Linked DNA regions of Homo sapiens: region 1 is linked to region 2. A link means that fine-mapping ties the variant in region 2 to the expression of a gene that starts in the linked region. Tissue or cell type: lymphoblastoid cells. Region 2 holds a variant in brackets; the other region holds the start of a gene. All regions are shown on one strand. Distances are between the middles of the regions.

Evidence for each region. PIP is the estimated chance that this variant, and not a neighbour inherited with it, causes the effect.
Region 1: it holds the start of CPAMD8, and the variant in region 2 is fine-mapped to the expression of CPAMD8 in lymphoblastoid cells (GTEx, PIP 0.92).

Annotation. Positions count from the first base shown.
Region 1 is chr19:17,023,620-17,028,764 of GRCh38, forward strand. It overlaps CPAMD8 (C3 and PZP like alpha-2-macroglobulin domain containing 8), which reads right to left and starts at 3,191. Exons shown (of 42, transcript NM_015692.5): 1 at 2,932-3,191. The coding sequence starts at 3,023. RefSeq lists an enhancer at 3,363-4,271.
Region 2 is chr19:16,885,222-16,890,366 of GRCh38, forward strand. F2RL3 (F2R like thrombin or trypsin receptor 3) reads left to right here and starts at 3,778. Exons shown (of 2, transcript NM_003950.4): 1 at 3,778-4,077; 2 at 4,352-5,145. The coding sequence starts at 3,969. RefSeq lists enhancers at 862-1,362, 4,453-5,052. The variant G/A (reference allele first, on the strand shown) is at 2,687.

The DNA of each region.
Region 1 (5,145 bases), 140 kb after region 2:
TGCCCAGGCTGGAGTGCAGTGGTGTGATCTCAGCTCACTGTACCCTCCACCTCCCAGGTTCAAGGGATTCTTCTGCCTCAGCCTCCAGAGTAGCTGGGACTACAGGCGTGCACCACCACACCCAGCTAATTTTTGTATTTTTGGTAGAGACTGGGTTCCACCATGTTGGCCAGGCTGGTCTTGACCTCCTGACCTCAAGTGATCTGCGCACCTTGGCCTCCCAAAGTGCTGGGATTACAGGCCCACTGCACCTGGCCTCAATAGTGTCTCTAGAACAACCCAACATCCACATGCAAAAAGATGAATTGAGAACATTACCTCACACCATGCAATTAGATTAACTCAAAGTTAATCTTAGTAACAGATCTAAATTGAAGAAGTAAAACTTGTAGAAACACTAGAAGAAAACAAAGGAGAAAGTCATTGCATGCTTAGATTAGGCAAAGATTTCTTGAGTAAGATACCAAAAATAAGATCCATAAAATAACTCACTGATAAACCAAACTTCATGAAAACATCATTACCAATTTTGCATCTCAAAAGACGCAGTGGGTTTGTGTTGTTTCATGCACACGAACAATGGGTTTGGGTTGTTTACTGCAGCCCTGGCCACAGTGTGCACTGACCCTGTGATCATAGTGTGCTACATCTGCCTTGAATAATTACCAGAGTTCAGTCCCCTGGGATCACACATGTGCTGTCCAACTCTAGGACCAACTGGAGTTTGCAAGACCCTGGGTATGTGCTGTGTATTACATAACTCCAGCACTGACCAGGACATGCAATTACCCTGTCCAGGTGTCCTGTCCAGCTCCAGCACTGGAATGTGGCATCCTTTAAAAGGGGAATACTCTTTCTGTCTGGCTCCCAGCTGATCCCTAGAGTTTAGACGGGCCTCACATATAGTACATGGTGAGTGTAGAAGAGAGAGTAAGGAATACGTGTTCATTTTGCTTGGTCACCTTTGAAACTCCTGACAATACGGGTTCAAGTCTTCATCCAACTGCCCAGAGAAACTGACATCACCAAATTAAGTTTCCCTGCCATTCAGAAGTTGCAGCTGTTTCCAGCTGTTGGGATGCTTGCCAGCCATTCACTGTCACACCTGACCCACCCCTAGCATCTGGGCCAACACTGCTTCTCATCCTGCTGGTCTCAGAAGGTCCCAGATTGGGGAAAGGGATGTCTGGGTCAGTGTAGACAGAATTGCTCTTACAACTGCAAACTGTGCTGCTTTCTGGGATCAGAGATTCCTCACACAAAAATCTCTCAGGTGACAGAAGTGGGCATCCAGAGCTATTCCTAAGACGAGATCCTTTGGGCTGGGTGAACCATGCCCCTGGCTTAGAGGCCAGCTAATCTGGAATCCCAGGTCGGTCATTTGGGGACATCTCTTCCCCAGTGTGTCTCTCAGCACAGGGATTCCATGTCACTTAACAGATGGTAAGATCACAGGGTGACTTTAGTCAGAGGAAAACGCCCTGGAGAACTGTTTAAAACTCTCTAACGGGCCAGGCACGGTGACTCACGCCTCTAATCCCAGCACTTTGGGAGGCGGAGGTGGGTGGATCACCTGAGGTCAGGAGTTCCAGAACAGCCTGGCTAACATGGAGAAACCCCATCTCTATTAAAAATACAAAAAATTAGCCGGGTGTGGTGGCACACGCCTGTAATCCCAGCTACTCAGGAGGCTGAGGCAGGAGAGTCATTTGAACCTGGGAGGCGGAGGTTGCAGTAAGCCAAGATCGTGCCATTGCACTCCAGCCTGGGCAACAAGAGTAAAACTCCATCTCAAAACAAAAACAAAAACAAACCCCAAAAACAACAAACAACAAACAAAAACCTCTGTATAAGGCAGGGTCTCTCATTGGAGCCAAGGTCTGTCATGTGGGGCCGCGTCATTCCTTGCAGTGGAAGCTGACCTGCACATCGAAAGCTGTTTACCAGCATTCCTGGCCTGCACCCACTTAATGCCAACACCAAATGCCTCTCCCTATTTGTGACAACCAAAAATACCTCCAGACATTTCCCAGCGGCCTCAGGGAGACAAAAATCCCCCCCAGGGCTGAGAACCACTATTCTAAGGGATGCCAGCTTTGAAAGAAGCATTAGGATGAAAATTTGTAGGGTTCCGATTTCACGAAGCCTAGGAGAGGGAAGTCTGGATGCTCAGAGCGCAGTAGACTGTCTTGCTTTTAAAACTGTGACCAGCAAGGACCAACTACTCACTGCAAATAACGACACCCACCTAGTCTCACTGCTTACCAGTTTTCTGGAAACTCCTAAACAAGGGCTGCTTGAACAAGCCGCCTTCTAAACGCCCAGCTGGACTAAAAGGCTGGTCTTGTGCAGACCAGGGCAGCCCCCCTGAACCCGCAGCCCTGCAGAGCTCACCCGAACTTGCCAGGTTTAGAAATATTCTCTGTGAAGCCAACTTAGCAGTACTCCCCAGCAGTTAGTTAATTCACCTTCTCCCCGCTGTCAACCCACCAGAAGCCTGCAAGCAAACCTCTAGAAAAATGTAGAAGCAAAACAAACACTTCCTCCTCCCTCACCACGCCCACCCACGGGAAAGTGCCCCTTCGCACTCTCCTCCCACTTCTCAGCCAAGACGCTCCTCTTACCTTCATACCTTGGACAACTGGAAATCGCCACCCATGATGACAGCCCGGGTCACACGAAGGGGGCGAGGTGGGGCGGGGGGAGCTGACCTCAGCACCTTTAGCTTTTGGGAGTCCCTGTACCTCCACAGAGCCACTTCGGAAACTTTAGGGCGCCCCCTCCTCAAGACGATTCGGGAACAAGAGGCCAGGTCCAGCCCAGCGCGGAGGCTGTGTGGCCTTGGGCAGGTCGCTGCAACACTCTGAGCCAGTACCCGCGACCCCCACCCCAGAAGGCGACCGACCTCCTCTGTCGCCGGAGGATACTCACGGGGCCTGAGGCTGCGCGGCGCGCACGCCGTCCCGCGCCGACAGCAGCAGGAGCAGGAGCGGGAGCAACGGCCAGAGCAGGGCGCCGCTCATTTTTCGGCTCCTGGGGGGCGCCGCGCCTGGGGAGGGGGCCGGGCCAGGGCTGGGCCAGGGCCAGGGTCCGAGCGCGGCCGTCCTCGCGCCGCCGCCGGGGGCCCTTTGTTCGCAGCCCCCGCGCAGTGCGCCCGGCGCCATGCGCCCCGCTCCGCGCCCGGCCAAGCTGGGGCAGCCCCGGGCCAGCCCCCTCCCCGGACCCGCCTCGTCTCCGGGACCGCCCCGCTCGCCCCGCTCGCCCCGCTCCTGGGCGCACCCTCCCGGGACGCCTGCTCCGCCCATCTCCGGACCCCGACCCGCCCCGATCCCTTCCGGGGATCGTCCCCTCACTTACTCACCGGACCCACCCGGGCCCTGCCCGATTCCTTCCGAACCCGCCTCCTCACCCCCTACCCGGATTCGCCCCCGGATGCCCCCCTCCCCACCAGCCCCGCCTCGGACCCGACCCCCCACCGCCCCCACTCTCCCTCTCCTCTCCACCCAGCGTCCACTCGGAACCTGTCCCTTCCCTGGCCTCTCCCTCCCTCCCTCCCCAGCCAGCCCCTTATGGCCCCCTCCCCGGGCCCGCCCCTCACCAGGGGCCCCTGGGTCTGGACGCCGCCTGCAACCCCGATCCCACAGGCGCCGCCGTGCCCTAAGCCCTGGCCTGTATCTAGTGCCCAGTGCAGTGCGTACAGCCCAAGGAGCAGAGGACCCTTTGGGGAAACAGTCTAGCCAGGGGTCGAACCTCCCAGACTCACATCTGCCCCAGGTCCCTATCTGTGCTCTCTGCTCCCCTCTCCCCCACCCCCACTGTCCACAAATCCCTTGGGCCCGTCCCCTCTCTCGCTGGGCCTCAGAGTCCCCCTTTCCCCTTCATACAGCAGGGGTGGATGGGCACCCCCTTTCTCTCCAAGAGCAGGGTGTCCCCTCCTGCCCCTCCCCGTGTGGCCACCTCAGTGATGGTCCTGCTGTCCTAGGTCCCACTGGCAGGCGGCACATCCTATACCATGTCCAAGTCCTGGACCCCCTCCTTCCAGTGTGGAACCCCCTTCCCCCAGCTACCAACTGCCCTTCTTCTAAAATTCCAGTGCTGACCACACCCCCTCCTGCCCGGAATCCTCGGGGCTCCCTGTTTATTTTACATTTTATTTTTATGTTTTGAGACCAGAGTTTTGCTCTGTTGCCCAGGCAGGAATTTAGTGGTGCAGTCACAGCTCACTGCAGCTTCAGACTCCTGGAGAGTAGCTGGGACTACAGGTGCAAGCCCGCACCCAGCTAATTTTTATATATTTTTTTTTAGAAACGGAGTCGCACTGTGTTGCCCAGGCTGGTCTTGAGCACTGGGCTCAAATGATCCTCCCTCCTCAGCCTCCCAAAGTGCTGGGATTACAGGTGTGAGCCACCACATCCAGCCAGGGCTTCCCGTTTATTGAGACCAAATCTAAACTCTGGCTTTGATGGCAGAGACCTCAGCCTAGTTCCTCCAACACCCTGTTCTTACTCCACTGCCTGCTTCTGCCTAATCTCTGTCTTCCTCTACCTGCCTCCTTTGCCAGTCCAACTCCTGATCCTTCCAGGAAACTCAAGGGAAGCTTCTCTTGCCCCCTCCCTGCCCCTAGGGATGTGGGTCCTCTGGGGGCTTCTCAGCCCTGTCAACAGCCTTTGGACCCAACACTGATCACCCAGGCAGCACCAAGCCCTGGGCTGGGCAATGAGGACCCTGGGACATACAGGACCTGCTGCCACTGAGCACACAACCCAGAGGGGACGTAACTGATGATGGTGTGTTGGTGTGTGTGTGTGCGTGCACGCGCGCAGGGGCCGGAGTAGATTGAGTAGCCGTCTCTCCTGCCTGGAGAAGAGGAGGAGCTGCCTGCCTCCAAGCTCAGACCAGGCCAACCCCAAACAGGCTGCTAAACTCACATGGAGGTGCAAAAATCTAGCACCAAGAAGCAGCATCTGATCTCACCCTCATCATCGAAGTTTGCCCCATGCCACCCCTCCGGGCCCCTCCAGGCCAACTCTGACTCCTACCTAAGCCAACCTCCACTCCTCAGCCTCCAGGCCAGCCTTTGAGCCCTCCGCCTCCCCCTTGACCATTGGGCTCTGGCCACATTTGCTCCTGAGATACATCAGACCC
Region 2 (5,145 bases):
TTGCAAAACTGAAACACTGTGGCCTTAAGCACTCACTCCCCAATCCCCCTCCCCCAGCCTCTGGCACCCCCCAACCCATTCTACTTCCTGTCTCTATGGAGGTGACCACTCCAGGGACCTCCCATGAGTGGAATGACTCAGGATTTGTCTTTCCGTGACCGGCTTATTTCCCTCAGCATAATGTCCTCAAGATTCATCCACAATGTAGCATATGTCAGAATTCCCTTACTTTTTAAGGCTGCCTTTTTTTTTTTTTTTTTTTTTTTTTTTGGCAGAGTTTCACTCTGTCACCCGGGTGGGAGTGCAGTGGTGCAATCACAGCTCACTGCAGCCTCGACCTCCTGGGCTCAAGCAATCTTCCCACCTCATTTTTTGATTTTTTGTAGAGACAAGATTTCACTATGTTGCCCAGGCTGGTCTTGAACTCCTGAGCCCAAGCGATCCCTCTACCTCGGCCTCCCAAAGCACTGGGATTACAGGCATGAGCCACCACTCTGAAACAGCCCGGCCTGGCTGTCTGCCCTTTTTAAGAAAATAAGATTTTGGCCGGGCGTGGTGGCTCACGCCTGTAATCCCAGCACTTCGGGAGGCTGAGGCGGGTGGATCACCTGAGGTCAGGAGTTTGAGACCTGCCTGGCCAACATGATGAAACCTCGTTTCTACCAAAAATACAAAAATTAGCCAGGCATGGTGGCGGGTGCCTATAATCCCAGCTGCTCGGGAGGCTGAAGCAGGAGAATCGCTTGAATCCAGGAAGCAGAGGTTGCAGTGAGCCGAAATGGCACCATTGCACCTTCAGCCTGGGCAACAAGAGCGAACCTCCATCTCTAAATAAAAAATATTTTGGCCAGGTGCAGTGGCTCATGCCTATAATCCTAGTGCTTTGGGAGGCTGAGGCAGGTGGGTCACCTGAGGTCAGGAGTTTGAGACCAGCCTGGCCAACACGACGAAACTCCGCCTCTACTAAAAATACACAAAATTAGCCGGGCATAGTGGCAGGCGCCTGTAATCCCTGCTGCTGGGGAGGCTGAGGCAGGAGAATTGCTTGAATCCAGGAAGCAGAGGTTGCAGTGAGCTGAGATTGCGCCATTGCACTCCAGCCTGGGCGACTGATCGAGACTCCATCTTAAAAAAAAAAAAAGTTTTTATGGAAAGTAACACAGTGCACAGAAAACTCCAACAGTACAAAACAGACACATGGTTTCCTCTCCTCCAAAGCTGTCGCGCCCAGCGTCCTCCGGGAAGTACCTGGGCAGTGTCGCCTGGGTACAGCTTGTGCCTGACAGGGGCAATGTCATCGTCACCTCTGCTTGCTGGGGTTCCCCCGACAGCCTGTGCTGCCGTGTTGTTCCCGGGGAGGGGCTGTTGGCGGGCACCTCCCTGCTTTGTGCTGCTGTGTGGATATCCTCCCAAGGACATCTTCCTGTGCGTGTGTCTGGCAGAAATTCCTAGACATGGAACCCTTGAGTATAAGGGCATGTGCGTCACTATGTTTTTTTTTTTTTTTTGAGACGCGTTTCACTCTTGTTGCCCAGGCTGGAGTGAGGCTGGAGTGCAATGATGCAATCTCGGCTCACTGCAACCTTTGCCTCCCATGTTCAAGTGATTCTCCTGCCTCGCCTCCCGAGCAGCTGGGATTACAGGCATATGTCACCATGCCTAGCTAATTTTGTATTTTTACTAGAGATGGGGTTTCTCCATGTTAGTCAGGCTGGTCTCGAACTCCCAACCTCAGGTGATCCACCCGCCTCTGCCTCCCAAAGTGCTGGGATTACAGGTGTGAGCCACTGTGCCTGGCTTTTTTTTTTTTTTTTTTTTTTTTTTGAGTCGGAGTCTCGCTCCGTTGCCCAGGCTGGAGTGCAGTGGTGTGATCTCAGCTCACTGTAACCCCTGCGTCCTGGGTTCAAGAGATTTTCCTGCCTCAGCCTCCTGAGGAGCTAGGACTACAGACGTGCGCCACCATGTCTGGCTAATTTTTGTATTTTTAGTAGAGACGGGTTTTCACCATGTTGGCCAGGACGGTCTCGATCTCTTGACCTCGTGATCCACCCACCTGGCCTCCCAAAGTGCTGGGATTACAGGCGTGAGCCATTGCGCCCGGTCGTGCATCACTATTTTGATGCATCATCTTCAAACCACCCTGCCCCAGCATCACTGGACTGCCGGTGTGCCCAGCCTCCCCTGCACAGCTTCCCACTCTGCTCACAGAGAAGACGGTGGAGGGGGGAGCCCAGGCGTGGGTTTTCCGTGTGCTGAGGGTGTCCTCAGCCACCTTTTTCCCCAAGTCATTGACGTGAAGCTGATTTTCTCATTGGTGGCCATGGAAACTGCCCAGAAATGGGAGCAGGGCCTCTGAGACCCTGCCCCAGCTAGACTCTCTCTCCAGGCTTCAGTGTCTCCTCCTGGAGCTGGGTGTTGACTCTGTCCAAGACTCTGCTCAGTCACTTCCTGGCTGATCCCCGAGTGCTCAAGTGTGTGATGAGATTAGGGCTCCCCCAGGCAGGAAACGGCCACATTGGACCCCTCCCTCCCCCATCCCTAGTTCATTTTATTTTCCCCAATCCTCATGGCTCCCAACTAGGCCCTCCTGCTCCCAGACCCCCCCAAGCCCTGTCCCCCATCCCCTGTAGCCCAGCGCTGAGCACACTGGGGCCAGAACCACCCATACCAGACTCCCCCAGGGCAC[G/A]ACGGGTTGAGGCCTCTCTGAGGCAGGGAGGGACAACACTGAGGGGCCTTGTGCAGAAGAGGGAAGGGGTACCCCCCCGAGCTTCAGTTTCTTCATCTGCCCGATGAGCCCCCATCCAATGGTACCCAGGAGTGGGGATGTGCTGGGGCTAGAGGAGGGAGGCCCCCTGGAGGCTGGCTTGGGGACCCTTCAACCTGGCCACCTCACTCAGGGTCAGAGGTCAGAGCAGGCGAGCCACACACCCCGAAGTCCCCCCGGTCCTCGGCAGGTGCTGTCCCCAGCATCACTGTCTCCCCTACAGATGCCCGTGTGTCCCCTGGGCAAGAGTGAAGTGAGGCACTCATACAGGGGTGCCTTGTGAGTATGGGGTCAGCCGAGGATGCTGAGGGGCTCTCGAGGTTCAGCCAGAGTCCCTGACGCTGGGCTCGTGCTGCTCTGGGGGTCTGAAGGGACCCTCGCTATTACCCTCTGGGAGGCGCCCATCCTTGGTTTTTTTTTTTTTTTTTGCCGAGTCTCGCTCTGTTGCCCAGGCTGGAGTGCAGTGGCAAGATCTCGGCTCACTGCAACCTCCACCTCCTGGGTTCAAGCAATTCTCCCACCTCAGCCTCCTGAGTAGCTGGGACCACAGGCATCTGCCACCAAGCCCAGCTAATTTTTGTATTTTTATGAGAGATGGGGTTTCTCCATGTTGGTCAGGCCGGTCTCAAACTCCCAACCTCAGGTGATTTGCCTGCCTTGGCCTCCCAAAATGTTGGGATTACAGCCGTGAGCCACCGTGCCTGGCCTAGCAGGGCTCTTCTTATCCTGCTCACCAGAGATAGGAAGTCGGGGGGTGACTTCAGGAAAGGCCCAGAGCCCGTGATGGGCGTGGGGATTGGGGTGAGGACAGGGCTGTCGTGAGAACAGTGGCTGCAGATGTGAGCGGCTGGCAGGAAGTGGCCACTTGAACCGCAGATGCTTCCTGGGCTGGTCAGGGACCGGGGGTGCTGGCTGCAGCTGGGACCCCCCCCCCTGCATCTTGCTGGCCTGGCACCTGGGTCCCTGGGAGGCGCCACACTGGATATAGCCACGTGGGGCAGCCCGGTCTCCATAACCCACACTCCAGTCCTCCCACGGGCTGGCTGGCAAGCGGCCCTGGTGGGTCTGCGGGGGCAGGGGCAGCCTTCCTGGTTTATCTCTACCGGCGCGATCTGCTCGTCCGCCTCGGCTCCAGAAGCTGGGGCTCAGGGTCCGGCGAGGCAGGAAGCCTGAGGCCACAGCCCAGAGCAGCCTGAGTGCAGTCATGTGGGGGCGACTGCTCCTGTGGCCCCTGGTGCTGGGGTTCAGCCTGTCTGGCGGCACCCAGACCCCCAGCGTCTACGACGAGAGCGGGAGCACCGGAGGTGGTGATGGTGAGTGGTCCTGGCTTTGGGGTGCAGAGATGGGGTTACATCAGAGATGGAGCTGGGGGCCCGGAGCTGGGGAGGGGGAGGCCGGGAAGTTGCGGGCTTCAGCCCAGCCCACTCTGTATCCCGTCTCTGACCCCATAGGGCTGGGCTATTCCCTTGAGTGTCATGTCCAGCTGTTTCCCACCAGGGCAGACCCCAGGCTCTGAGCACCTCCCTCCCTGCTGCTTCTCGTCACCTGCCGAGGCAGGGGCTGACTGAGGTCCCCTCTCTCTCCCAGACAGCACGCCCTCAATCCTGCCTGCCCCCCGCGGCTACCCAGGCCAAGTCTGTGCCAATGACAGTGACACCCTGGAGCTCCCGGACAGCTCACGGGCACTGCTTCTGGGCTGGGTGCCCACCAGGCTGGTGCCCGCCCTCTATGGGCTGGTCCTGGTGGTGGGGCTGCCGGCCAATGGGCTGGCGCTGTGGGTGCTGGCCACGCAGGCACCTCGGCTGCCCTCCACCATGCTGCTGATGAACCTCGCGGCTGCTGACCTCCTGCTGGCCCTGGCGCTGCCCCCGCGGATCGCCTACCACCTGCGTGGCCAGCGCTGGCCCTTCGGGGAGGCCGCCTGCCGCCTGGCCACGGCCGCACTCTATGGTCACATGTATGGCTCAGTGCTGCTGCTGGCCGCCGTCAGCCTGGATCGCTACCTGGCCCTGGTGCACCCGCTGCGGGCCCGCGCCCTGCGTGGCCGGCGCCTGGCCCTTGGACTCTGCATGGCTGCTTGGCTCATGGCGGCCGCCCTGGCACTGCCCCTGACACTGCAGCGGCAGACCTTCCGGCTGGCGCGCTCCGATCGCGTGCTCTGCCATGACGCGCTGCCCCTGGACGCACAGGCCTCCCACTGGCAACCGGCCTTCACCTGCCTGGCGCTGTTGGGCTGTTTCCTGCCCCTGCTGGCCATGCTGCTGTGCTACGGGGCCACCCTGCACACGCTGGCGGCCAGCGGCCGGCGCTACGGCCACGCGCTGAGGCTGACCGCAGTGGTGCTGGCCTCCGCCGTGGCCTTCTTCGTGCCCAGCAACCTG